Linked DNA regions of Homo sapiens. The protein of the gene in region 3 purifies or fractionates together with the protein of the main gene of each other region. This does not show direct contact. Each region holds a gene or a part of one and is shown on either strand. Other genes may lie near its edges.

What was found.
Region 1: the proteins of PSG11 (region 3) and NEIL2 purify together in Homo sapiens (affinity purification with mass spectrometry; one large-scale study listed by BioGRID and IntAct). This does not show direct contact.
Region 2: the proteins of PSG11 (region 3) and ABCF3 purify together in Homo sapiens (affinity purification with mass spectrometry; one large-scale study listed by BioGRID and IntAct). This does not show direct contact.
Region 4: the proteins of PSG11 (region 3) and DSC2 purify together in Homo sapiens (affinity purification with mass spectrometry; one large-scale study listed by BioGRID and IntAct). This does not show direct contact.
Region 5: the proteins of PSG11 (region 3) and APAF1 purify together in Homo sapiens (affinity purification with mass spectrometry; one large-scale study listed by BioGRID and IntAct). This does not show direct contact.
Region 6: the proteins of PSG11 (region 3) and ARHGEF1 purify together in Homo sapiens (affinity purification with mass spectrometry; one large-scale study listed by BioGRID and IntAct). This does not show direct contact.
Region 7: the proteins of PSG11 (region 3) and RGL3 purify together in Homo sapiens (affinity purification with mass spectrometry; one large-scale study listed by BioGRID and IntAct). This does not show direct contact.

What each region holds. Positions count from the first base shown.
Region 1 is NC_000008.11:11,776,210-11,779,709, reverse strand, and holds part of NEIL2 (endonuclease 8-like 2), read right to left. Parts: intron 113-3,500; coding exon 1-112. UniProt on the Homo sapiens protein: Involved in base excision repair of DNA damaged by oxidation or by mutagenic agents. Has DNA glycosylase activity towards 5-hydroxyuracil and other oxidized derivatives of cytosine with a preference for mismatched double-stranded DNA (DNA bubbles).
Region 2 is NC_000003.12:184,185,073-184,188,998, reverse strand, and holds the start of ABCF3 (ATP-binding cassette sub-family F member 3), read right to left. Parts: upstream 2,801-3,926; 5' UTR 2,792-2,800; coding exon 2,719-2,791; intron 2,493-2,718; coding exon 2,345-2,492; intron 2,205-2,344; exon of another isoform or gene 2,204-2,204; coding exon 2,124-2,203; intron 1,636-2,123; exon of another isoform or gene 1,603-1,635; coding exon 1,556-1,602; intron 1,336-1,555; coding exon 1,238-1,335; intron 1,139-1,237; coding exon 1,016-1,138; intron 859-1,015; coding exon 592-858; intron 336-591; coding exon of another isoform or gene 329-335; intron 239-328; coding exon 158-238; intron 71-157; coding exon 11-70; intron 1-10.
Region 3 is NC_000019.10:43,016,470-43,019,969, forward strand, and holds part of PSG11 (pregnancy-specific beta-1-glycoprotein 11 isoform 1 precursor), read right to left. Parts: intron 2,580-3,500; coding exon 2,301-2,579; intron 1-2,300.
Region 4 is NC_000018.10:31,061,381-31,064,421, forward strand, and holds part of DSC2 (desmocollin-2 isoform Dsc2a preproprotein), read right to left. Parts: 3' UTR 1-3,041. UniProt on the Homo sapiens protein: A component of desmosome cell-cell junctions which are required for positive regulation of cellular adhesion.
Region 5 is NC_000012.12:98,732,290-98,735,933, forward strand, and holds the end of APAF1 (apoptotic protease-activating factor 1), read left to right. Parts: intron 1-130; coding exon 131-277; 3' UTR 278-3,144; downstream 3,145-3,644. UniProt on the Homo sapiens protein: Oligomeric Apaf-1 mediates the cytochrome c-dependent autocatalytic activation of pro-caspase-9 (Apaf-3), leading to the activation of caspase-3 and apoptosis. This activation requires ATP. Isoform 6 is less effective in inducing apoptosis.
Region 6 is NC_000019.10:41,903,684-41,907,183, reverse strand, and holds part of ARHGEF1 (rho guanine nucleotide exchange factor 1), read right to left. Parts: exon of another isoform or gene 3,478-3,500; coding exon 3,400-3,477; exon of another isoform or gene 3,398-3,399; intron 3,150-3,397; coding exon 3,074-3,149; intron 2,969-3,073; coding exon 2,801-2,968; intron 2,236-2,800; coding exon 2,148-2,235; intron 2,010-2,147; coding exon 1,923-2,009; intron 1,425-1,922; coding exon 1,357-1,424; intron 1,246-1,356; coding exon 1,159-1,245; intron 728-1,158; coding exon 564-727; intron 482-563; coding exon 398-481; coding exon of another isoform or gene 381-397; exon of another isoform or gene 376-380; intron 80-375; coding exon of another isoform or gene 1-79. UniProt on the Homo sapiens protein: Seems to play a role in the regulation of RhoA GTPase by guanine nucleotide-binding alpha-12 (GNA12) and alpha-13 (GNA13) subunits. Acts as a GTPase-activating protein (GAP) for GNA12 and GNA13, and as guanine nucleotide exchange factor (GEF) for RhoA GTPase.
Region 7 is NC_000019.10:11,395,315-11,398,814, reverse strand, and holds part of RGL3 (ral guanine nucleotide dissociation stimulator-like 3), read left to right. Parts: intron 1-1,217; coding exon 1,218-1,370; intron 1,371-1,456; coding exon 1,457-1,571; intron 1,572-3,500.

The DNA.
Region 1 (3,500 bases), on a different chromosome or scaffold from region 3:
CAGCCCCTTCCTTCTGCACTTCTTTTTGTGGAGGCTCTGGTGTTGGGCTGCTGCCAGGGGGCCCCATTTCTTCATCTAGATCAAATCTAAGGAATAATTTCTTTCCATGGACCTAGAAAAAATGAACAGAGATCCAAGCCTTACAGACCCAGAGAGGGGAACTGGGGAATGCGGATATTTATCCTATTGCAAAGGTCTTCCTTCTCACCCCTCCTGGGGGGCCTTCCCAAATGAAGTCTTTGGACTCTGCCTTTTGCTCTTTTGCTCCAGTGGTGTGAGCAGTTCGCATGTGGTTTTCAAAGTGACTGGGAGCAAGGAGACTTAGTTGGCAGTGAAACACACCCATGCAAGATGGCAAGGCCACCCTGGAATACCTGAAGGGAATCGCTCCCAATTTTTTCATGCAGTAGCTAAGAAATGAACATAAGTTGTCATTCCTTCATTCCATTCGTAATACATTTTCTATGCCAGAAATAAGCGGTGCGTGGGAATGCACACATACAGAGCAGCTAAAGACAACACCCTGTGAAACTGGGTACCCCTCGCTACCCCCTCCACCAGCATATTGGACTTGATAAGGAAACTGTAATCAATAAAAATTAGATACTGAAACAAAAATTGATCAGTGAATCAGATCACCACTCTAAAAAGTATAAGGCAAAGGACCCACCTCATCTCACTGAAAATGATTTCAGTAGAAGAAAATAAATATAGAAAATGTGTGTTAAAGGATGTTCTGCTGTCTTTTTTTTTTTTTTTTTTTTTTCAGATGGAGTCTCGCCTAGACTGGAGTGTAGTGGCACCATCTTGGCTCACTGCAGCCTCCATCTCCTGGGTTCAAGTGATTCTCTTGCCTCAGCTTCCCAAGTAGCTGGGACTGTAGGTGCACACCACCACCCCCAGCTAATTTTTGTATATTTAGCAGAGACCACGTCTCACCACGTTAGCAAGGCTGGTCTCGAACTCCTGACCTCAAGCGATCTGCCCGTCTTGGCCTCCCAAAGTGTTGGGATTCCAGGCATGAGCCACCATGCCTGGGCCCTTGCTTTGACTTTATTTTCATATTGCACCTCCTGATATGCAATATGTAGGCCTAGATTCCAGGATGAGTCAGTTCTACACAGCCTGAAATTCAGGCAGTCTTTCAAGGAGTATAAACCAAAATATCTGGCATTAATACTGGAAATGCCTGTGTTACTTTCTTGACCACTACAGGTCCGTGCTTAAAGATCACTGTTCTGGTATGATCTTTAACTTGTTAATTAGTACACAAATTAATCTTGAAGTCCTCCACCCAAAAGAGCATTACCTTTCGAAATAATCCCAGAATAGCTTATCTGTAAATCTGAGCACAGATTGTTATCTGCCACATATTAGAAATGGTTTAACTGACCTACATAAAAAAAAAAAAAAAAAAAACTGAGCAAGGATTTAAGTGGGCATAATAGAATTTGCTGCAGAAAATATTTCTTGGTATAAACTCACCAATGTTGATATAATTCTGATGAAAATAACTGTCAAATGCCCATCATGAACAAAACATTTACTAGGTCAAAAATGTCTAGGTCAGGATGTCCTCATACCAACTATGGCAATTTCTGCTGTCCCTCTTTTGGGTTCCTGTGACACTGCAGCCACTTCAATTCACTAATCATTAATTAAGCTTATTCAATGTGCCTGGCAGTGTGCTAGGCTCCAAGGGCAAACAGATGAATAAGGCTCTGCAATGCTTTCAATGTGTTCCTCAAAAAGTATGTGTTGGAAACTTAATCCCCAATGGAACAGTGGTAAGAGATGGCAACTTTGAGATTAGGCCATAGAGCTCTGGCCTCCTGAATGGAATAATGCCAATTGCAAATGACACGGCAAGATGCCAATGCCATGCCCTTGGACTTTCCAGGCTCCAGAACTGTGAGCTAAATAGACTTACATTGCTTATAAATTATGCAGTCTCAAATATTCTGTAATAGCAGCAAAATTAGATTACAACAATCTCCAATCTTCCCTTATCTATAACATGGGTGAACTTTGAGGACTTTATACTAAGTGAAATAAGCCAGTCAAAAAAACTCCAAATACTGTATAATTCCACTGATATGAGGTATCTGGGGAAGTAAAATTCATCGAGACAGAAAGTAGAAAGGTGATTGCCAGGGGCTGCAGGGAGGGAGGAAAGGGGGAGTTAGCGTTCAACAGGTATGGAGTCTCAGCTTGGGGAGATAAAAAAGTTCAGGGAAACTGTTAGACAACGTGAATACACTTAACATGACTGAACTATATACTTTAAAATGGTTAAGACAGTAAAGTTTGTTATGTGTTTTTCATCACAATTTTAAAAATTTTTAAAAGGCGGTGGGGGTGGGAGGGGGACAACTGTGAAAACAGATACTACAAGAGCACAGAGAAAAGTGTGGCTAGGCCAGGCACAGTGGCTCATGCCTGTAATCCCTGCACTTTGGGAGGCTGAGACGAGAGGATTGCTTGAGCCCAGGAGATCGAGACCAGCCTGGGTAACAAAGTGAAACGCCCATCTGTACAAAAAAAAAAGAAAAGAAAAGTGTGGGTAGAAGCAGACGTAGCACACGGAAGAAGAGTCTACATGATGAGGGGAAGCTGGCCGTTACCTGGGCTGGGCTTCACAAGAAGAGTGGAGGGCAGAGGAGACAGGGTGTGCCCAGCTGAGGGGACATACCTGAAGGCAGAGGTGGAAACCCTACACTGGAACAGGGGCTCCTGGTCAGACACAGCAGCCAGGGCGTGCGCTGTTAGCACTACTCCCAACAAACCCGCTATAGGAACCAAAGAGCTCTCAACTCTCAGGACCAAGAGGAGGAGCAGACAGGAGATACAAAGTCCCCCCAGAAGATGAGGAACAGGCACAGGAAGGGTAACTGATGAGGGAGAGCAGAGACCCCTGCTGCAGCAGAGGGGAGCCCCAAGGAAGAGAGAACCCAGGGGACCTACCCATCGTGACCCCAGGTGACCTGGAGATGGGGAGGCCCCAGGTGCTGTGGCAAGAGGTTAAAAATGGAAGGATTGGTCCTCATACACTGCTGGTGGGATGATAAAATGGTGCAGCTGCCTTGGAAAACACTACAGAAGACACTAAAAAAGTTCAACATACTATATGGTCCAGCAATTCCACTCCTAGGAATACTCTCAAGAGAAATGGAAACATACGTCTACACCAATACTTGCATATGAATGCCCACAGCAGCATTATCCATAGAAGTCAAAGAGTTGAAACAATCCGAGTGTCCAACAACTGATGACTGGACATCACTGACCATAAAATGTGTGATATGGTTTGGCTGTGTCTCCACCCAAATCTCATCTTGAATTTTAGCTCCCATAATTCCCACGTGTTGTGGGGGGGACCCGGTGGGAGATAACTGAATCATGGGGATGGGTTTTTTCCCATGCTGTTCCCACAACAGTAAGTCTCACAAGATCTGATGGTTTTATAAAGGGCAGTTCCCCTGCACATGCTCTTTCTTGCC
Region 2 (3,926 bases), on a different chromosome or scaffold from region 3:
GGTCACTCACCGGGTGGGCTGCTGCTGCATTTTAGGGGTAAAGCCAAGCCCAGCGAGAATGACTGATGCCCTAGTAGAGAAGAAATCGAAGAACTCAGTTGGAACAGTCCACAGAAGGGAAAGGAAATCTGAAGGAGGGAGGGGGAGCTTTAAATACCTGGCAGGTGCCTTGTCAGCCTCAATCTCCTCCAGTTTGGCATAGATTTCTGCCAGCTCTGCAGCTTCAGAGCCCTCCGCCCTGGAGGGAGGAGAAACAGCAATTGGCCTAAGCAGGGGCAGTCTAGGAGGATGTCCTGCACCCTATACCGTTGGAAAGGCCATTGGCTACCTTGTGGCTGGAAGAGGAAGAGAATACAGGAAGGGTTTGCACAGTGCTCATTACCTTGGGCACTATGGAAATGGGCACTGTGGAAAGAACAAGAAAGGGCAATGGGCACTGTGGAAAGAACAAGGGCTTCTGAGTCCCAGAGTGCCAAGTTCTAAGCTCTGCTGATTACTAGGATGTACATGCAAATTATGGATTGTTCCAGGACGGCAGGCGCTCTGTAAGCGACAGCGGCTGCTAGTTACTCCCTAGCCGGGAGTCCTCACCTGCCAGCAGCAATCTGGGCAGTGAGCTCCCGCTCCCTCCGTAGCAAATCCTCTCGCACACTGTCACTCTCCAGCACACTCTGCAGGGCAGGAGTGTCATCTCCAGCAACCTCTTGCTCAACGTGCAGCAGGGAAATGTGGGCTGGAACCCGCAGACTCCGGGTGGCCAGCATCTTCAGTAACGTTGTCTTCCCCAACCCATTCCGCCCCACCAGCCCGTAACGGCGGCCCCATGCCAGGTTCACATCCGCTCCAGCCAGCAGTACTCTGCAGGAGTGGAGAAAGGAGACCAAAGATGCTCTAGAAATAGGTGCACAGCAAGTTTAATGACAAACCTAACATTGTTTATAGCCCCGTTTCACCTCTCCAAATTGTCCTCTAATTAGAAAAAGAAAGCCAACCCCTGCCACCACTATTCCCTCACCTATCGCCAAAAGACACATCAAAGTTCTCAATTCGCACATCATAGGATTTGTTCTTGCCAGATGATTCCAACCGACTCTCCTTTCTGCTGCCTGCCTGGCTGGCTGATGCCTCTTCTAAGACTCTTTAAAGGGAGAAATGGACAGCTCTTAGTGCTCCCCACCACCTTCTGTCCAGGCAAAAGCTGCTCTGCTCTCTTCTGAGCCATGCTTCCCCCACTCACAGAGGGTTGCTGGTCTTGAGCGTGTCCTTCTCTGAGCGCTTCTCCTGCTTTGCCTTAAGTCGAGCCTCGGCCTTCTCTAACTTCTTTGCATTCACTGTCTAAGGGTCCAAACACATCGACTTCACTCTCGGGTGTAGGCTCAGAAAGGAACCCCAAGAGAGAACATCTCGAGTAAACCCTCTTAACTTACCCATGATGAACAGACTCAAAGGCTCAGGAAAAGACATAGTCAGAAATCCCCCCAAAAGATACTCCAATTAGACAGTCAACTCCCAACCCCATCACAGACAGTCCCCTCCCTTGCTTCCTCCTCCTCACCGAGGACTGTTCCCTCTTTAGCAGTCCTGGAAGTTTGGTTCCACAGTCTGTAAGCGATAAGAAAAGCAGTCACCTTCTCCCTGAGGGAAGGGAAACTAACATTTTGAGTGACTAATAGGAACCAGGCACAGACACAGATGTTTTCTACAAAACCTTATAATACTGCAGATAGATGGCTATTATCTTCCCTGCACTAAAAACAAAACAAAACAAAACAAAACAAAACTCACGTAGAAGGATACAGAGGCATAGACAAGGCTGGGGACAGATAACCAACTCTTACAAGATCATGCAGCTGGTTAGCAAGTTGCAAAACTGGGGGTGAAAGCAAGTCTGTCCAGCTCCAGGCTCTTATGCTTCCTATCCTACCCAAGAGCTTGGAGGGAGAACCCTCCAACCTCCTCCCCACCCCCATCATGGGCTCTTCTGCCCTCGGTAAAGACATCAACTAGCTCCTACAACCTTGTCCTGTGGAAAAGACGTAGGAGCCCTAAGCTGCAGGCAGCAGATGGTTGGGGGCGGAGAAAAGCACAGGGGGGCAGTTAGTTCAACCTCCCCTCACTCTCACCGTAGTTCTCCGTTATCTTTGACAACTGGATAGGGGCGTCCAGTAGCACCTGGCTATTTCCCTGGCTTTGTGGCTCAGCCCTATGTGGGTAGGGATAGAAAGCGCAGAGTTAGGAGTTGAGGGAAAAGCTCTATGGCCATCAGATCTTCCTCCCCCACCTCTTGTCTCCGGACCGTTCGCCGTCCCTTCGCCCCCATCAACCCCTACTCCCTGGCACATACAGACGCAGAGTGTTGTACATGCGCTGGCACACGGCCCTGATGCCCGCGTCATCCTTGCTGTCCCCGGACACCTCTTGCAATAGTTCCCCTACAGCTTCCACCAGGTCATCCACAGACTCGAAGTCCGCGCTGCCGCTGTGCAAGACGCCTGGGCAGGGCGTGGTAGAACGAGGAAGGTATCGGGTAGGGTGGACACACAAGCAGTTTCAGACCCCAGACAGAGGCCCCAGTCCAGGCTCCAGACCCAACCAGCCCCCGGGACAAGAGGTCATGCAGAGGAGAGGCCTGGCAACAGTCCCGGGCACGACGCTCGCTTAGACTTTCCCCCGGCCTCCACTTCGGTCTCCCCAGCCGGCCGATTCAGTTCTGCTTACCGGTCACGTAGTCGAAGACTTGTCCGTCAATTTCGGGGAACTCGCTCCGCAGGATTTCGGCGCAAGTCGCCATGTTCCACTCAGGAACCCGTCCGCGCAGTCGCTGTGAGACCCCGGCCTAGGCCCGCCCCCCGCCCTGCCCCCGAAATCTCGCCCTTCCTTGCAAGGCGCATGTGTAGCGGTGACGCAGGAAAGGAGCGGAGTGCGCAGAGCCCGGTGGGCGGGGCGAGCGGGGCCTTGAGGAGAGGCGCCGAGTCTGCGCCGGAGCCGCGCTCTCTGCGCGTGCGCGACACCTTTTCCGCTGAAAGATTAGCCACATGTGCGGTTCTCGCTGCCTTCTGGGAGGTGGAGTTCCGGGAGCGAGGGGTGGGGCAAAGGCTGGGAGCTCAAGGTTTATCGGGGCCGCGAGGCACCCGTGGTCTGGCGGGTGGGAGCCTCCCAAGAGGCAGGCGGCTGATAAAGCACTTTGGCTTTGCCAGGTTTTATGCGCTCCCTCGAGGCGCGTCTGCTGCTGGTGCGTACCCAGTCAGGCCCATTTTGGAGCCTGCCCAGAGCTTTGCTGACTCACCCCGGTCCCTGACTCTCAGAAGCCCCCTGCTCAGTGCTTTGCTTTCGCGGGTCCCCAGACCCTACGGGCTTCTCAGCCTGGTGGCCAGCGCCACCCGCCTCCCCGCCGCGACCGCCTTTTCACTGTGTAATTCAGCCGACCTTTGTGAATTAAGCCCATTCAGTTCTTCCACCACCCCAGGGCACGACCAAATCCACCGCCAAAGGGCAAGAAAACCAGGACAACGTGGCCTGTATAAATTATTCCCTACCTACACCCTGAGCAGACTTCTCTGCACTCAATAAATGCCAATAAAAGGCTATTTCCTTTCACCGATTCCCTCGGGAAGTTAGGAATTTCCTCCAAAATGATGCTACTGCTTTATATTTAACGTGAATATTCCTCCAATTGGTCTCTAAAAGTGGCACCGAAAATTACATTATTACCCATTCATCCCTTTGGATTAAACATTGCCATCATGAGGCATCAATCCCGATATTGAACCATTTTACAGGAAATACAGGTAAAGAGGAATATGTTAAGTGACTTCATGGGGACAACAGGCAAATTCTGATGTGGTAAACTACAGAACTCTGGTTTCTTCCACAAAATTGCAAGACCTGAAGGGAAACATCAATTTTTAAAATTTGAGGAGCATTAA
Region 3 (3,500 bases):
GGACATTCTAGAGATCAGTAATAATGGGACTTCCCATTGTCCTGAAACCCTGAAGATACTGAGCAGCCTGGCCTGGGACTGGATGTTTCAGCAGAAATAACACAGGGGAGACCAGAGTCAAGCCTGGAGGTCAGTTCAGTCATCAGGCAGTGGAGGCAGAAAGTGGGGCAGTGTTTTGCAGGTGTTTCATGATGACTTACTTGAACCAGTGACCTCTAAAGATAGAGCAGAGCGCAAGGAATGATCTAGGAAGAGTGAAGGGGATAGGCAAGAGCTGGTGGCTTTGGAGCAGAACCATGTTCCCTGTCCTGGGTCCTTTAAGTTTCCTTTCCTTCTGCAGAGGGCAGGTGAGGACCATGTGGATCTTTCCAGAAATACATGTGGACATTTGCAAATGCAGAACTGACTGGTGGAAAGGGTGGGAATGAACTGCTGGAAATCTGGTCCTCATGGACCATATGTGTTTGATGGATATGAGACAAATTTGGAGAAAAGTTTTGCAAGTAGTTTCTTTCATTGGATATTCTACTCTCTGATCCCCTGGGTTCGACTACTCTAGGGACCTCATGTAAATGGATTCCAGAGTGAATATGAGAAGAGACTGCTGGTTGCCAGGAGCTGGGAGTGGGGAGAATCAGAAGTTGTTCATGGGTGTGCAGTTTCCGTTATACAAGTTGGGGAGTTTCTAGAGATCTGCTGTAGAGCTTGATGCGTATTGTTCACACAGATTATTTCTTATGCATAAGACTTAGGACAAAAAGTGTTTTGGATTTCTGACATTTTTTGATTCTGAAATATTTGTCATATACTTACTGGTTTAGCATCCCAAATCTGAAAGATTCAAAATCTAAAATGCTTCAGTGAGAATTTCTTTTCAGCATCAGATTAGTAGACAAAAGTGGGAAGTGATAAGCCAAATATATTCTTGCCCTTTTTTTTCTCTCACCACATTTCTAGCTTGGTGATTAGTTTTCGGTGAATTCCATACTGGCCATGCTGCACTCATATATATTTGAAGGCTTTGGGATGTGAGAAAGGCTGATTGCTATTTTCTATGTCATCAAAACTTTCCACCTTTTCATGGTTGCATCTTTTTCACAGTGTTTCTGTTGTGGCAGTCATTAATAAGTGCCTGTCAGGTCAGATTTAGGACAGAGTTTTCTAATTCTGCAAAAAATGTTACTGGGATTCTAGTAGGGGTTGCATTGAATCTGCAACTCACTTTGGGTAGTATTGTCTTTCTAACAATATTGATTCTTCCAGTCCATGAAAATGAAGTGTCTTTCCATATAATGATATTGTCTTTAATTTCTTTCAGCAATGTTTTGTAGTTTTCAAGGTATAATCATTTGACCTTTTTGGTTAAACTTATTCCAAAATATTTTATTCCTTTTCATGTTAATGTGAATTGAAATTCTTTCCTTAATTTCCTTTCAGATTGTTCATTGTTAGTGTATAGTCTAAAGAATGATCTAGAAAGAGTGAAGGGGACAGGCAAATGCTGGTGGTTTTGGAGCAGAAACATATTCCCTGTCCTGGGTTTTTGATTTTCCCTCTCCCTTTGCAGAGGGCAGGTGGCTCTTCCCTGATAGCTAGATAGACTTCCCTGGAAAACATAGTGCCAATGCTCCAGGGATCCACTTACCAGGGACTATGATCCTCTTGATTATGAGATTTGTTCCACCAGTGGCTGAGTTATGGATGAAACAGACATAGACCCCTCTATATGTTTTAGTGATTTGGGGTATGAAGAACACTTGTGCTGATTGCTGGAACTTCCCACCAATCAGCCAAGAATGCTCTGCCAGTGGGTGAGTGTCTATGAGACAGGAGAGCTTGGGGACTTCCCCTGTATGGTAATAGGTGTATGAGGAAGAAATGGTGAGGGCATCCAGGCCATCTGGAGCAAAGAGAATAAAGTCACAGGTGACATTGTCAGAGGGAAGGGAAAATCCTGGTCTGTGGAAGGGCCACAGTGACCCTGTGAGCCAAGTCGCAAGACTGAAGTCCCAGCCAAATCCTCGCTGTGTTCACTGATCTGGAGCCTGAGACATTCACCTGTTTCTCCCATCACAATCTGTGGACCCTGAGCCTCCCATGACAGGAGCAGCCTCTTTTCTCCCACTGTGGATCAAGCCTAGGCCTACTGTGGTTTGTCTGGGGCAGAAAGTCATGGCCAGCTTTGATGTCCAGTGGTAAAGGTCTCTGTACTTGGACCTGAGAGGGACTGAGAGGCCTGGCCTCTGGCCATGTGTATTTGGGATGGCAGCCTGGCTCACAGAGGAACAGAAGATACTCACGGAGGAGATTCAGGGTGACTGGGTCACTGCGGCTGGCACTCCCTGAGTTCCATATTTCACATTCATAGGGTCCTGCAGTATACTTTGTGACACCAAATAGAAAGAGGGTCCTGTTGGTTTCAGACAGCTGCATCCTATGAGTCATAGGGAGGCTCTGACCATTCATCCACCACAGGTAGCTTGCGTCCGGAGTCTCAGGATTACAGGTTAAGATCACAGTCTCCATGGCCTCCCTGGGGTTTAAGTTGCTGCTGGAGATGGAGGGCTTGGGAGTCTCCACTGTGCAGAAAACAGAGAGAAGATTGCCCTGTGTGGCACCTTTGATTCCTCCAAAGGCATTTTTCAATCAGAATTGGCATTTGCCACCTCTCAGCCCACCCGAGTCCCTAAAAGCCCATGGCAGGTGTGTGTGTTACAACACAGATGCATGGCATTCTGAAGGCTAAGAGATTGTGAGGCTGCCTGCTTTATGTGGGAGAAGCACAGACTTTCTCAGGTGTGAATTGAGCAGCAGCATTGGGTCATGGAAAGACACAGGACCAGCAGTCATAGCCCCTGGTGCCTCTCTGAGTCCCTCCATCTCCAACTGCCTGCCTGGCCCACCTTTTGGTCCTGACTTGGAGCATGCAGTGCTGGAATCTTCTTAGTTTCAGTCTTACTTTTCCCCCCAAGGTATGTTTTCTCTGCAGCTTCCCTTGCCAAGGACATCCTAGAGATGGATGATGGAACTTCCCATTGTCCTTAAACCCTTTGGGTACTGGAAAGCCTGGCCTGGGACTGGGTACTTCAGCAGAAATAACACAGGGGAGACCAGAGTCAAGCCTGGAGGTCAGTTCAGTCATCAGGCAGTGCAGCCACAAGGTGGGGCAGTTTTCCCAGGTGTCTCATAGTGACTGACTTGAGCCAGTGACCTCTAAAGATAGAGCAGAGTCCAAGGAATGACCTACAAAGAGTGAAGGGGACAGGCAAGAGCTGATAGCTTTGAACCAAGACCATGTTCCCTGTTGTGGGTCTATGATGCTCCCTTCCCCCAGTAGAGGGCAGGTGAGGACCATGTGGATCTTTCTGGAAATACATGTGGATGTTTGCAAATGCAGAACTGACTGGTGGAAAGGGCAAACATGAACTGATGATGGAAGTCTGGCCCTCATGGACCATATGTGTTTGGTAGATATTAGACCAATATTTGGGAAGAAGTCT
Region 4 (3,041 bases), on a different chromosome or scaffold from region 3:
AGAGAGAATGAAACAAAACAGCCCTTGCCATTTCCCATGCACCAACTATCACTCCATACGGAGGCACATCAGTGAGTATCTCTTCTTTAATCTCACGTATACCTAGAATTTAGGATATACCAAATGGCTTGAGAAGAATATGCTCCAAATCCATGACACAGTAAAATTCCTCTATAAAACAAGATTTAGGGTGTGTTCTTTTAAATTAAAGTGCTCTGTTTACCTGACTAGCTATTTCAAAGCTCTAGCTTCTTTTTGTTGCCTGTTTTTTAGCATTATGCTCTTTTGTTTTACCTTAAGACTCTATATTGCATGTCTTATTTGAAATATCTAAAGTTTAAAATGCAGCCTCATAATGTATCTATTTGCTTAATTTAAAACATTTAAGCAAAAGTAATAGGTTCTGCTTCTTAGCTATTGATGGGATAAAGAACACAAGGACAGGTGGGGAGAGAAGAGCTTCTTGGAAGAAAGATCAGATCCTACTTCTCAAGATTTCAGTCCTCAAACCTAGAAAACCAGAACTGGTGAAGAGGAAATAATAAAGGGGGTCATACAACTGATCCCCTCTCCCCAGAAAGCAAAACACATAGGTCTGTCCTACATGTCCTACGTGAGAAGAGCAGGGCTGGGAACTACCTCTTACGTGTTATCTTCCAAGTGACATTATCAGTTCACAGCACAATATAGGCATTGCCTCTGAGGCTCATTGCTATGCATTTCTTTCCCTATTCTCTACTTCTTGTGTGAAGATTTTCTTCTCTCAGGGCACACATGAGCACGGTGGTTTCCTGTTACAGAATGTTCTCCCAGCCTAACATGGAAAAAGCTCGTAGATGTATGCCACTTTCTTTGCTTTGTGGTTTCTCAAGATATTTTTTGAAGCAAGGCCTGACTTACAACATTTTATAAATAACTAATGGGAATTTTGGCAAACTCATAAGAATCATTTCTTGAATTTCTAAACATAAGTGGTTTTTAGTTGCTTTTCCTCAGGTGGTTAGAGAGTGGCCTTTTGGTTAAAAAAAAAAAATTCACTGCAGTGTTTGAACCTGGCAATGATGAAGTGACAGTCGCAAACATAATTTTCACATTGGCTAAAAATTTTCAAGTTGAGAAAAAGAATTCTTTAGGCAATATGCAGTCTGATCTTAGCCAGGTACCTAACACACATGTGCATTTATTCATTCATCCATTTATTCATCACACACCAAATATATTCAGTGTCTACTGCTCTACATGTTAGGCATACAGTGGTCAAGAAGACAGAGGAGAACCCTTGGGGGTTACATTTCAATATGGGGCAATTATTGGTGGCTACAAGTAGGTTCGTGCAATTATTGGTGGTAGGATTTGAGCTGGCCTGAACCACAATATTCAGACACTACCCCTTCTGTCTGCCCCTCTCACTATCCCAAGGGAGAAGGGATTCCAAAATCTCAACACTTCACTTTCCTGTATTAAGCTGTGAATGCAAACAATTGTTCTAGTCATTCAATGTCTTCTGAGGAAAAACAATTCAGTGCAGAATCTAACATACACCATGTCTATCATGTAAAATTTATGCCACAGAAAATTAGTATGTGCTGAGAATAAAAAACCTAACTTTTATTATTTCTCTTTTTTCCTTTATGACCTGGGCAATATAATTTGATGAATCAAAATTTGGCCAGGCACAGTGGCTTATGCCTGTAATCCCAGCACTTTGGGAGGCCAAGTGCTGACAGATCACTTGAGGTCAGGAGTTCAAGACCAGCCTGGCCAACATGGTGAAACCCTTTCTCTGCTAAAAATACAAAAATTAACCAGGCGTGGTGGTAGGTGCCTGTAATCCCAGCTACTCAGGAGGCTGAGGCAGAAGAATTGCTTGAACCTGGGAGGCAGAGGTTGCAGTGAGCCATGATCATGCCACTGCACTCCAGCCTAGGTGACAGAGTGAGATTCCGTCTCAAAAAAAAAAAAAAAAAAATTAATGGCCAGAGTTGTATAGGCATGCAATTGTGAACACCTTTCTTGGTCCTTAGTGTCCTACATGAAAGAAAAGAAACACACACACAAACCTGTAGATGAAAACTTTACAGCCATGTGCTCTAGACACACAAATGTCTAGGCGGTAGTATTTTTACTAGATCCTCAAAAAGTAATATTTTTACAAAGAAAGAGACAATGAGTAAAGACATTGTAAAAAGAGAACTAATCATGAGCAAGGCACAAATTGAAAAATGAAGGATACAAGGAGATTGGGGAAATTAGTACAGAAGGTCCTCAACTTAAGATGGCTCGATCTGATATTTCAACTTTATGATGGTGTCAAAGAAATATGCATTCAGCATTCTCCTACACTTATGAGACTACATCCCAATAAGCTTATTTTAAGTTGAACATATGGTAAATGGAAAATGCTGTTTTGATTTGTAATATTTTCAATTTACCATGGGTTTATCAGGATGTAACCCCATCATAAGTCAAGAAGCATCTGTATTTAAAAGTGATTTTGTGTTTAGAATTTATCCTCTAAAACCCTATAGAAAGCTCTTAGGCAGAATGGCATGATCATATCTGCTCTTTGATGGCCCTTGAAAAAAGAGAAGAGGGAAGAAATTGGAAGCATAAACACCATTGGAGCTGAGTGATGCTGAAGATTTAATCTGGGGTACTGGCGGGGGGGAATATTGATCAGGAATGAAGTGAAGAGTGGGAACAGCTGACATAGGGTACACCTCAACCTCATGAATGCTTGGATTGGGAGTAGCAGAAGCAGAAGTTCACTCACTAGTGTCCTGAAGTTCTTTCACATCATCTGAAGCTTTTTAAAAACATGCATTATGCACTTACTATGTGCCAGGCATTGTGTGATGTGTTTTACAGGCATTAGCCCACTCCTTACATCCACCGTGTCTTGACTTGCATTCAAGTGTGTGGGTGGGGAGAGTGGCTGATTCATCTTGCACTTTCTCATAGAAGCACAGTCCTTCTAGTCTCTGTTTTAAAAGGCTACATATGACTGCACTGGGAAGGCATCAAATGACTACAGTACAAAC
Region 5 (3,644 bases), on a different chromosome or scaffold from region 3:
CGAGACATTTTCCTCCTGTTTGCTTGAGTTCGGTTGGGGGGAGGAGATAGGGTAAAGGATCTGCTGGCACTATAAATTGTCACACAGTGTAATTACCAATCTAATGAGAATTTTATTTTTCTCTGAACAGTGGTGGAACGTTGTCACTGGGGAATCCTCACAGACCTTCTACACAAATGGAACCAATCTTAAGAAAATACACGTGTCCCCTGACTTCAAAACATATGTGACTGTGGATAATCTTGGTATTTTATATATTTTACAGACTTTAGAATAAAATAGTTAAGCATTAATGTAGTTGAACTTTTTAAATTTTTGAATTGGAAAAAAATTCTAATGAAACCCTGATATCAACTTTTTATAAAGCTCTTAATTGTTGTGCAGTATTGCATTCATTACAAAAGTGTTTGTGGTTGGATGAATAATATTAATGTAGCTTTTTCCCAAATGAACATACCTTTAATCTTGTTTTTCATGATCATCATTAACAGTTTGTCCTTAGGATGCAAATGAAAATGTGAATACATACCTTGTTGTACTGTTGGTAAAATTCTGTCTTGATGCATTCAAAATGGTTGACATAATTAATGAGAAGAATTTGGAAGAAATTGGTATTTTAATACTGTCTGTATTTATTACTGTTATGCAGGCTGTGCCTCAGGGTAGCAGTGGCCTGCTTTTTGAACCACACTTACCCCAAGGGGGTTTTGTTCTCCTAAATACAATCTTAGAGGTTTTTTGCACTCTTTAAATTTGCTTTAAAAATATTGTGTCTGTGTGCATAGTCTGCAGCATTTCCTTTAATTGACTCAATAAGTGAGTCTTGGATTTAGCAGGCCCCCCCACCTTTTTTTTTTGTTTTTGGAGACAGAGTCTTGCTTTGTTGCCAGGCTGGAGTGCAGTGGCGCGATCTCGGCTCACCACAATCGCTGCCTCCTGGGTTCAAGCAATTCTCCTGCCTCAGCCTCCCGAGTAGCTGGGACTACAGGTGTGCGCACATGCCAGGCTAATTTTTGTATTTTTAGTAGAGACGGGGTTTCACCATGTTGGCCGGGATGGTCTCGATCTCTTGACCTCATGATCTACCCGCCTTGGCCTCCCAAAGTGCTGAGATTACAGGCGTGAGCCACCGTGCCTGGCCAGGCCCCTTCTCTTTTAATGGAGACAGGGTCTTGCACTATCACCCAGGCTGGAGTGCAGTGGCATAATCATACCTCATTGCAGCCTCAGACTCCTGGGTTCAAGCAATCCTCCTGCCTCAGCCTCCCAAGTAGCTGAGACTACAGGCACGAGCCACCACACCCAGCTAATTTTTAAGTTTTCTTGTAGAGACAGGGTCTCACTATGTTGTCTAGGCTGGTCTTGAACTCTTGGCCTCAAGTAATCCTCCTGCCTCAGCCTCCCAAAGTGTTGGGATTGCAGATATGAGCCACTGGCCTGGCCTTCAGCAGTTCTTTTTGTGAAGTAAAACTTGTATGTTGGAAAGAGTAGATTTTATTGGTCTACCCTTTTCTCACTGTAGCTGCTGGCAGCCCTGTGCCATATCTGGACTCTAGTTGTCAGTATCTGAGTTGGACACTATTCCTGCTCCCTCTTGTTTCTTACATATCAGACTTCTTACTTGAATGAAACCTGATCTTTCCTAATCCTCACTTTTTTCTTTTTTAAAAAGCAGTTTCTCCACTGCTAAATGTTAGTCATTGAGGTGGGGCCAATTTTAATCATAAGCCTTAATAAGATTTTTCTAAGAAATGTGAAATAGAACAATTTTCATCTAATTCCATTTACTTTTAGATGAATGGCATTGTGAATGCCATTCTTTTAATGAATTTCAAGAGAATTCTCTGGTTTTCTGTGTAATTCCAGATGAGTCACTGTAACTCTAGAAGATTAACCTTCCAGCCAACCTATTTTCCTTTCCCTTGTCTCTCTCATCCTCTTTTCCTTCCTTCTTTCCTTTCTCTTCTTTTATCTCCAAGGTTAATCAGGAAAAATAGCTTTTGACAGGGGAAAAAACTCAATAACTAGCTATTTTTGACCTCCTGATCAGGAACTTTAGTTGAAGCGTAAATCTAAAGAAACATTTTCTCTGAAATATATTATTAAGGGCAATGGAGATAAATTAATAGTAGATGTGGTTCCCAGAAAATATAATCAAAATTCAAAGATTTTTTTTGTTTCTGTAACTGGAACTAAATCAAATGATTACTAGTGTTAATAGTAGATAACTTGTTTTTATTGTTGGTGCATATTAGTATAACTGTGGGGTAGGTCGGGGAGAGGGTAAGGGAATAGATCACTCAGATGTATTTTAGATAAGCTATTTAGCCTTTGATGGAATCATAAATACAGTGAATACAATCCTTTGCATTGTTAAGGAGGTTTTTTGTTTTTAAATGGTGGGTCAAGGAGCTAGTTTACAGGCTTACTGTGATTTAAGCAAATGTGAAAAGTGAAACCTTAATTTTATCAAAAGAAATTTCTGTAAATGGTATGTCTCCTTAGAATACCCAAATCATAATTTTATTTGTACACACTGTTAGGGGCTCATCTCATGTAGGCAGAGTATAAAGTATTACCTTTTGGAATTAAAAGCCACTGACTGTTATAAAGTATAACAACACACATCAGGTTTTAAAAAGCCTTGAATGGCCCTTGTCTTAAAAAGAAATTAGGAGCCAGGTGCGGTGGCACGTGCCTGTAATCCCAGCTCCTTGGGAGGCTAAGACAGGAGGATTCCTTGAGCCCTGGAGTTTGAGTCCAGCCTGGGTGACATAGCAAGACCCTGTCTTAAAAGAAAAATGGGAAGAAAGACAAGGTAACATGAAGAAAGAAGAGATACCTAGTATGATGGAGCTGCAAATTTCATGGCAGTTCATGCAGTCGGTCAAGAGGAGGATTTTGTTTTGTAGTTTGCAGATGAGCATTTCTAAAGCATTTTCCCTTGCTGTATTTTTTTGTATTATAAATTACATTGGACTTCATATATATAATTTTTTTTTACATTATATGTCTCTTGTATGTTTTGAAACTCTTGTATTTATGATATAGCTTATATGATTTTTTTGCCTTGGTATACATTTTAAAATATGAATTTAAAAAATTTTTGTAAAAATAAAATTCACAAAATTGTTTTGAAAAACATTTTTGGATTGTTTCATTCTTTGCTTGTCATTTATCTGTTGATTAGACCACTAAAGTGAAGGATTCAAGCTAAATACATCAACCTTTCTATTTAGGCTTTATCAGCTATATGTAAATTCAATTCTATCAAAATTTTCTGAGTGCCTCCTCAGTGTGTCTCTCTGATGGTTCCTGCCCGGTATGGCTGGCATGAAGAAGATCCTGTAAAAAAGAGAATTCATTTATTTATTCACTTAGTTTGTTCATGCATTTGTTTAATAAATATTGAGATGTACCATGTGCCTGGCATTGTGGTAGGTATTGGGAACACAGGAGTGAGCAAAACAAAAGTCTTGCTCTACTGCAGTTAAGGGCCAGGGAGAGGCAGAAAAAGTAAATAAGTAAAATCTATAGTGAATTTGGTGGTATGTACAAGCGGAGGGGAAGGGGTTACGGTTTTAGATGGACTGGCTCTTTCAGAAGCTGACACTTGTACAGACCTGAAAGATGTGAGGAAGTGA
Region 6 (3,500 bases), 1.1 Mb from region 3:
GTGAGATGCTGCGGCAGCTGTGTGGGTGGGGGTGGTCCCTCACGTCCTCTCCCCCATTCCTCTCCTTCTTGCAAAAGGCCTGGGGGATGTAGGAGAAGAGGGGAGACGGGGAGAGATGGAGAGAGAGACAGGGAGAGACAGACACAGAGACAAGACAGGGAGAGCAGAGAGAGAAGGGGAGGTGGGGAGAGGCAGGCGGGCACAGAGACAGAGAAACAGATTATCAGAAACAGAGACACAGAGATGAGAAACACGAGGTGGAGTGGGGAGATTCAGAAAAGACAAAGAGGGAGATGGACAGAAGGGGCTGTAGGGATGCGAGCTCTGGAGGGGGACCCTCCTTTCAGGACAGCGCCCTGGCCCCCAGGTGCCCCACTCACCTTCCTGGGCGGGAACCTCAAGTGCAGCCAGGCTGGGGGACAGAGTTCCCCCCAAGCTGAGACAGGAGGGGTCTCAGGCGGCAAAATTCCTCCTCCAACTCCTGGTGGGGTGGGGGTCATGGATGAGGGGGGCCCCTTCCTTCCCCAGCCCACTCAGGGCACCCCTGGCCCGTCCCGCCCCACCTCCAGCTGCTTCATGGTCTCCTCCAAGCTGAGCAGGTTCTCCTGGATTTCCTGGGTCCGTGCTGGGCTCAGGGGGCCGCCCCCTGGGACCCCATCCCCATCTCGAGGAGGCCCCGCCCCATTGTCTTCCTCCGCCGGAAACAGAAGCTGCTTCAGGGACAGCACTGGCCAGGGGCAAGGAGGGGTGGAGTCAGGAGACCAGGGGGCTGGGCTGGGATCTGGGATGGGGGATTCCAAAGGGGATGTGTAGGGGCTGGAGGTGAAGGTGGGTGCCAGGCAAGGCTGAGCAGATGGGGTTCGGGGATCCAAAGGGAGGTGAAGAAGTGAGGCTGGGTTTAGGGTTGGGACAGGGCAGGAAGGTACTGAAGACAGAGATGTGTTCAGGAAGAGGCTAAATATAGAATCAAGCAAGGGATGGTGGCTGCAGAAGAGGGACGTGGGCACCCAGGACAGTGGTGCAGGCTGGGTGGGTTTGGAGCATTTGTTTTCTGGCAGCTGGGCGTAAGGAAATTTTTGACGTGGAGAGCCTTGTTCTAGTTGGAACAGAGGCACTGTTTGGGCTGGTGGCCACCCTGGAGGGGCAGAGCTGGGCTACCTTTCCGAAGGGCCGTGGCAGCGAGCTGGCCCTCGGGGCCTGGTCTGCAGAAGGGCAGGAGGTCACTGAGGATTCTCTCGGTCCGGGCTGGATTGGGGAACAGAGAGGGAGCTCAGATCCTGCCGGGCCTCCTGTGGATGCCTCTCTTCACCCGGCAGCCCCAACCTGGCCCCTCACCCAGCATCCCTCTGGTCTCACCATCAGCTGGAGACGTCTCTCGGCCACCATTGCCGTTCTCAGAGCTGCTGAGGAGGGGTTCTCGGGTGCTGAGGGGAGGAAGTGCTGGGTGACCCCACACCCCTGGCCCTGGGGGGCCGCAGGGGCAGGGAGACAGAGAGCTGGAGGTGGGGAGGCAGGGAGGTCCGGAGACAGAGACAGAGGTCGAGGCCGGGAGACAGGGAGACAGAGAGGCCCAGACAATGGAAGACACAGAGGCCTGGAGACAGGAGACAGACGGGGCAGTGGTGGGGTCGGCACATGCGCACACACACACACATGCATGCACATGCTGTCACACGCATGCACACATATGCATACACACACACCATACACGCACACACATGCACACGCACACATGCATGCATACACACACTATATATGCACGCACAGTCACATACTTGCGTACAGACACACATGTATGCACACACATGCATTCACACATGTGCATGCTCACACAGAGACGGTTCTGGAGTTGTGGAGGGAAGCCTGCCCCGCCTTCCGGCCCCACTCCCTGAACCTCCAGCTCTCTCCATGGCCCCCCTCACCTGCTCGGGCTGGGCCGGGGCTTAGGGCGAGAGGCAGGGGCAGGGACTTTCAGGGATCCGGCAGTCTCAGTGATGAGAGCACACCAGCTGGGGAGAAAGGCCAAATCCCTGGGCAGTCAGAGCCCCCAGACCCTATGCCAGGGCCTCCCCACAGCCCTCCTGTCCCTGGGAACCCAGAAACCTGGGCGTCCTCCACCCACACTCAGAACTCAGACCCCCCCTCACTTTTTCCGCTCCGACACAGTCTGTGCCACCAGCTCGTATATCTGGGCCTCCTGGTCCCAGGTAAAAAGGACGTAGAAGGCTTTGTGATCTGCAGGGAGAGGGGGAGATGGGGCTCAGAGCCCAGGTCCCCCCAGTGCCTGCCCCTCCCTAAGCACAAGCTGGAGAAGTCACCCACAGTGGTGGCGCTCTCAGGGCTCCCATGGCTCAACTCACCACTCACTGTCTGCTAATATCCAGGGCCCGATGTGTCCTCCTGAGCCCCACCTCTCACACCTCCTTATGGAATCGGGCATGTACCCTGGCTTACCTAACGAAACCCCTCCAGCCACTCCCACCCTCCAGCCGCTTCCAGTGTTTGTGGCCCTGGTGCAACTTCCTAGTAGTATGTTTACAAATCCCTCCTCACTGGACTCCTGGCCTTTCTTCTCCTTGTTTACACAAGACACGCCTCTGTGCAAACACCTGCAGCAGTTCCTACCTCACTTATAAACCCTCTAGGCCTGGCCCCGCCCTGCCCACCTCCACCTACTTCTCAACCTCTTTGCTAGAATGCTGGCTCCCTGGCTCTCTAGAGGGTTCTGCTCCCCACTCCACAGGCAGCTCTGCCCAAAAAAGACACCCTCTGCCCTGGGCCATGCAGTGGCTGCACTCACCGGTGGCCACCTCGCGGGTCATGGCGGAGGTGAGCCGCAGCACGGGCCGCAGCATGGTCTTGCCATCGGGCGTGGGCGTCAGTGTCCGGCTATGGGACTTGAGCAGCAGCCGCTCGTCCTGGCGCTGGAGCAGCAGCAGCAGGTCGTCCAGCAGCAGCACATGCACCTCTACGGGGCGAGCAGTGCTCACACGGCGTGCCCCCGCGCGACCCCCTCCCCGCCCTTGGCTCACTGCCCCAACACCCTGCACTAGGCAGCTGCTCTGGCACTCACCCACTGCCTTGTCCTTAGTCACCCGCCACGTCAGTGGGCCCTCGTGGACCAATTTCTTCTTGGTGATGTCCAGGTTCTGGGGCAGGAGGGGGTGATGGTTTGTGCAGGTTGGCAGGGGGTGATTGGGGTTGGTGGGGAGGGGAAGGGCAGGGCAGTGGCCGGGGATGACCACAGGCTGGGGATCATGGGATTGGCATGAGGTGGGGGACAGAGCTCTCGCTTCCTGGGTGTATTATGGGATGGGCAGGACAGGCTGGGGGCTGTATCACAGAATCCCCTGGGCCAAGGAGTAGGGGGGCGGGGGAGGCAGGAGGGTATGGTCACACCTTGAACTCGCTCAGCATAGGGTCGCTGCTCTGCCGAAGGTGGGACAAGTCCAGGCGCCGCTGATAGTCCTTGAGCCTCTGGGGCAGAGACGGGAGCATTA
Region 7 (3,500 bases), about 32 Mb from region 3:
CCTGTAGTCCCAGCTACTTGGGAGGCTGAGGCAGGAGAATCACTTGAACCCAGGAGACGGAGGTTGCAGTGAGCTGAGATGGTGCCACTGCACTCCATCCAGCCTGGTGACAGAGCGAGGCTCCCTCTAAAAGAAAAACAAAAAAAGAAAAGGAAATGAAGGAAATGAAGGCTGGGCATGGTAGCTCATGCCTGTAATCCCAGCACTTTGGGAGGCCGAGGCCAGTGGATCACTTGAGGCCAGGAATTTGAGACCAGCCTAGCCAACATGGTGAAACCCCGTCTCTACTAAAAATAAAAACATTAGCTGGGCATAGTGGCACAGGCCTGTAATCCCAGCTACTTGGGAGGGTGAGGCATGAGAATTGCTTGAACCTGGGAGGCAGAGGTTGCAGTGAGCTGAGATGGCACCACTGCATTCCAGCCTGGGTGACAGAGCAAGACTCTGTCTCAAAAAAAAAAGAAAAGAAAAAGAAAAGAATCTGTGTACCAGAAGAGGAAATGTGGGCCTGAGTATTCATGAGATCATGTGTGGGGTTGTTCATTGGCATGGGCTGTGGGTGTATAACCGCTGTCAGCATATGTATGTACACAGGATTTCTTGTGTATGAGCATGGGTTGTGTGTATATGGACACTGTTCATGTCTGTTTCTATAACAGGTAACCAAAGTCTGTATATGGTAGGGTGGTGTATATGCAGGCTTGTGAATGTACTCCAGTTGCATGTCCCAGGCTCTGCATGTGTAGGGGGTAGTAGTATGTTTTCTTGAGATTTTATTTTATTTTATTATTTATTTATTTATTTTTGAGATGGAGTCTTGCTCTGTCACGCAGGCTGGAGTGCAGTAGCGTGATCTTGGCTCACTGCAACCTCTGCCTCTCAAGTTCAAGTGATTCTCCTGCCTCGGCCTCCCAAGTAGCTGGGATTACAGGCATGCGCCACCAGGCCCTGCTAATTTTTGTATTTTTAGTAGAGACGGAGTTTCACCACGTTGGCCAGGCTGGTCTTGAACTCCCGACCTCAAGTGATCCGCCCACCTCGGCCTCCCAAAATGCTGAGATTACAGGCATGAGCCACTGCGCCCAGCCAATGTTTTCTTGAGATTTTAAATGTGGGGCTATTGAATGCACCAGTGGTGGCTGGGGTGTTCGTGCTTTTCTAGCCCTCAGCATCTGCAGATGGGCCAAGCTGTAGCCTCCACCCCTTACTGCCTGCAGCTGCCCCTGAGCCTGGACCTGCCCAGCCCCCGGCCCTTCGCTTTGCCTCTGGGCAGCCCTCGAATCCCCCTCCCGGCGCAGCAGAGCTCGGAGGCCCGTGTCATCCGCGTCAGCATCGACAATGACCACGGGAACCTGTATCGAAGCATCTTGGTGAGGGGCTGGGCTGGGGGTCTGCTGGAGGCTGCCCTGCCCTTGGGGCCGGGGCCCTCACCTCACCTCCCGCCCCTCTCTTCCAGCTGACCAGTCAGGACAAAGCCCCCAGCGTGGTCCGGCGAGCCTTGCAGAAGCACAATGTGCCCCAGCCCTGGGCCTGTGACTATCAGCTCTTTCAAGTCCTTCCTGGGGACCGGGGTGAGCAGGGATGGGTTGGAGCTCAGGATAGGGGGCAGCGGGGAGGCGAGCAGACTGACCACGCCCAAGGATGGAGCCCAAGGTTACCCGGGTTCACAGGGCTGTGAGGTGCTTCAGGCAGAGAGTAGGGGTAAGATAATCAGTGGAGGTAAGAGGACATAAAATACCTGTAACCCAACGATGTAGGGTCATGAGATTGTCTTGGCTCAGTGTGAGAGAGAGGTACCAAAGGTCATCTTCCTAAAATTTAAAAGACAATAAGATTGTCCAGGGTCCGGCCAGGCGCAGTGGCTCATGTCTGTAATCCCAGCACTTTGGGAGGTCAAGCTGGGCGGATCACTTGAGGTCAGGAGTTTGAGACCAGGCTGACCAACGTGGTGAAACCCCGTCTCTACGAAACATACAAAAATTAGTCGGGTGTGGTGGCACACTCCTGTAGTCCCAGCTACTCAGGAGGCTGAGGCAGGAGAATAATTGCTTGAATCTGGGAGGCGGAGGTTGCAGTGAGCCGAGATCATACCACTGCACTTCAGCCTGGGCAGCAGAGCGAGACTCTGTTTAAAAAAAAAAAAAAAAAAAAAGACTGTCCACGGACAAGTGACAGAAGGGAGTGTTTCTGACCTTCAATTTGTAGGATGGGCTGGGCATGGTGGCTCACAACTGTAATCCCAGCACTTTGGGAGGTCAAGGTGGGTGGATTGTCTGAGCTCAGGAGTTTGAGACCAGCCTGGGCAACATGAGGAGACCCCATCTATACAAAAAATAGAGAAATTGGCTGGGTGCGGTGGCTCAACGCCTGTAATCCCGGCACTTTGGGAGGCCAAAGCGGGTGGATCACTTGAGGTCAGGAGTTCGAGACCAGCCTGGCCAACATGGTGAAGCCCCGTCTCTACTAAAAATACAAAAAAATTAGCTGGGCATGGTGGCACATGCCTGTAGTCTCAGCTACTCGGGAGGCTGAGGCAGAAGAATCGCTTGAACCCAGGAGGCGGAGGTTGCAGTGAGCCGAGATCGCACCACTGCACTCCAGCCTGGCGACTGAGCAAGACTCTGTCTCAAAAAAAAAAAAAAAAAAAAAAAAAAAATATATATATATATATATATATAGAGAGAGAGAGAGAGAGAGAGAGAGAGAGAGAGAGATTAGCTGAGCATGGTGGCATGTGCCTGTATTCCCAACTCCAACTACTGGGGAGGCTGAGGTGGGAGGATCACTTGAGCCTAGGAGGTGGAGGCTGCAGCGAGCTGAGATCACGCCACTGCACTCCAGCCTGGGTGACAGAGCAAGACCCTGTCTCAATTAAAAAAAAAAAAGGGGGCCGGGCATGGTGGCTCACGCCTGTAATCCCAGCACTTTGGGAGGCCGAGGCGGGTGGATCACGAAGTCAAGAGATCGAGACCATCCTGGCCAACATGGTGAAGCCTCGTCTCTACTAAAAATACAAAAAATTAGCCAGGCATGGTGGCAGGCGCCTATAGTCCCAGCTACTCAGGAGGCTGAGGCAGAAGAATCACTTGAACCCAGGAGGTGAAGGTTGCAGTGAGCCAAGATTGCGCCACTGCACTCCAGCCTGGCGACAGAGTGAGACTCCGTCTCAAAAAAAAAGAAAAAATAGATTGTCTAGGGTCGAGTGAGAGAAGGGAGTGTAGAAGTTTGTCTGATCTTAAGTTTGTAGCATCATGAGATTGTTCAGGCTCAACCTGATGGGATGGGAGACTAAAGGGCATCTGGGCTTAGATTTGTGAGAACTAAGTTTGTTCACCACTGGGACCCTGAAGTTATCTGAACTTGGGACGGGAGAGAGGCAAATGGATAGCCGCGGAAGCATGAGATTGTCCTGTCTGACAGGGAGAAGCAAGGGATTGAGCGTATTCACGCTGAAGTACATGGCATGAGGTTGGCTGGATATTAGGAAAGGATGCTTGTGG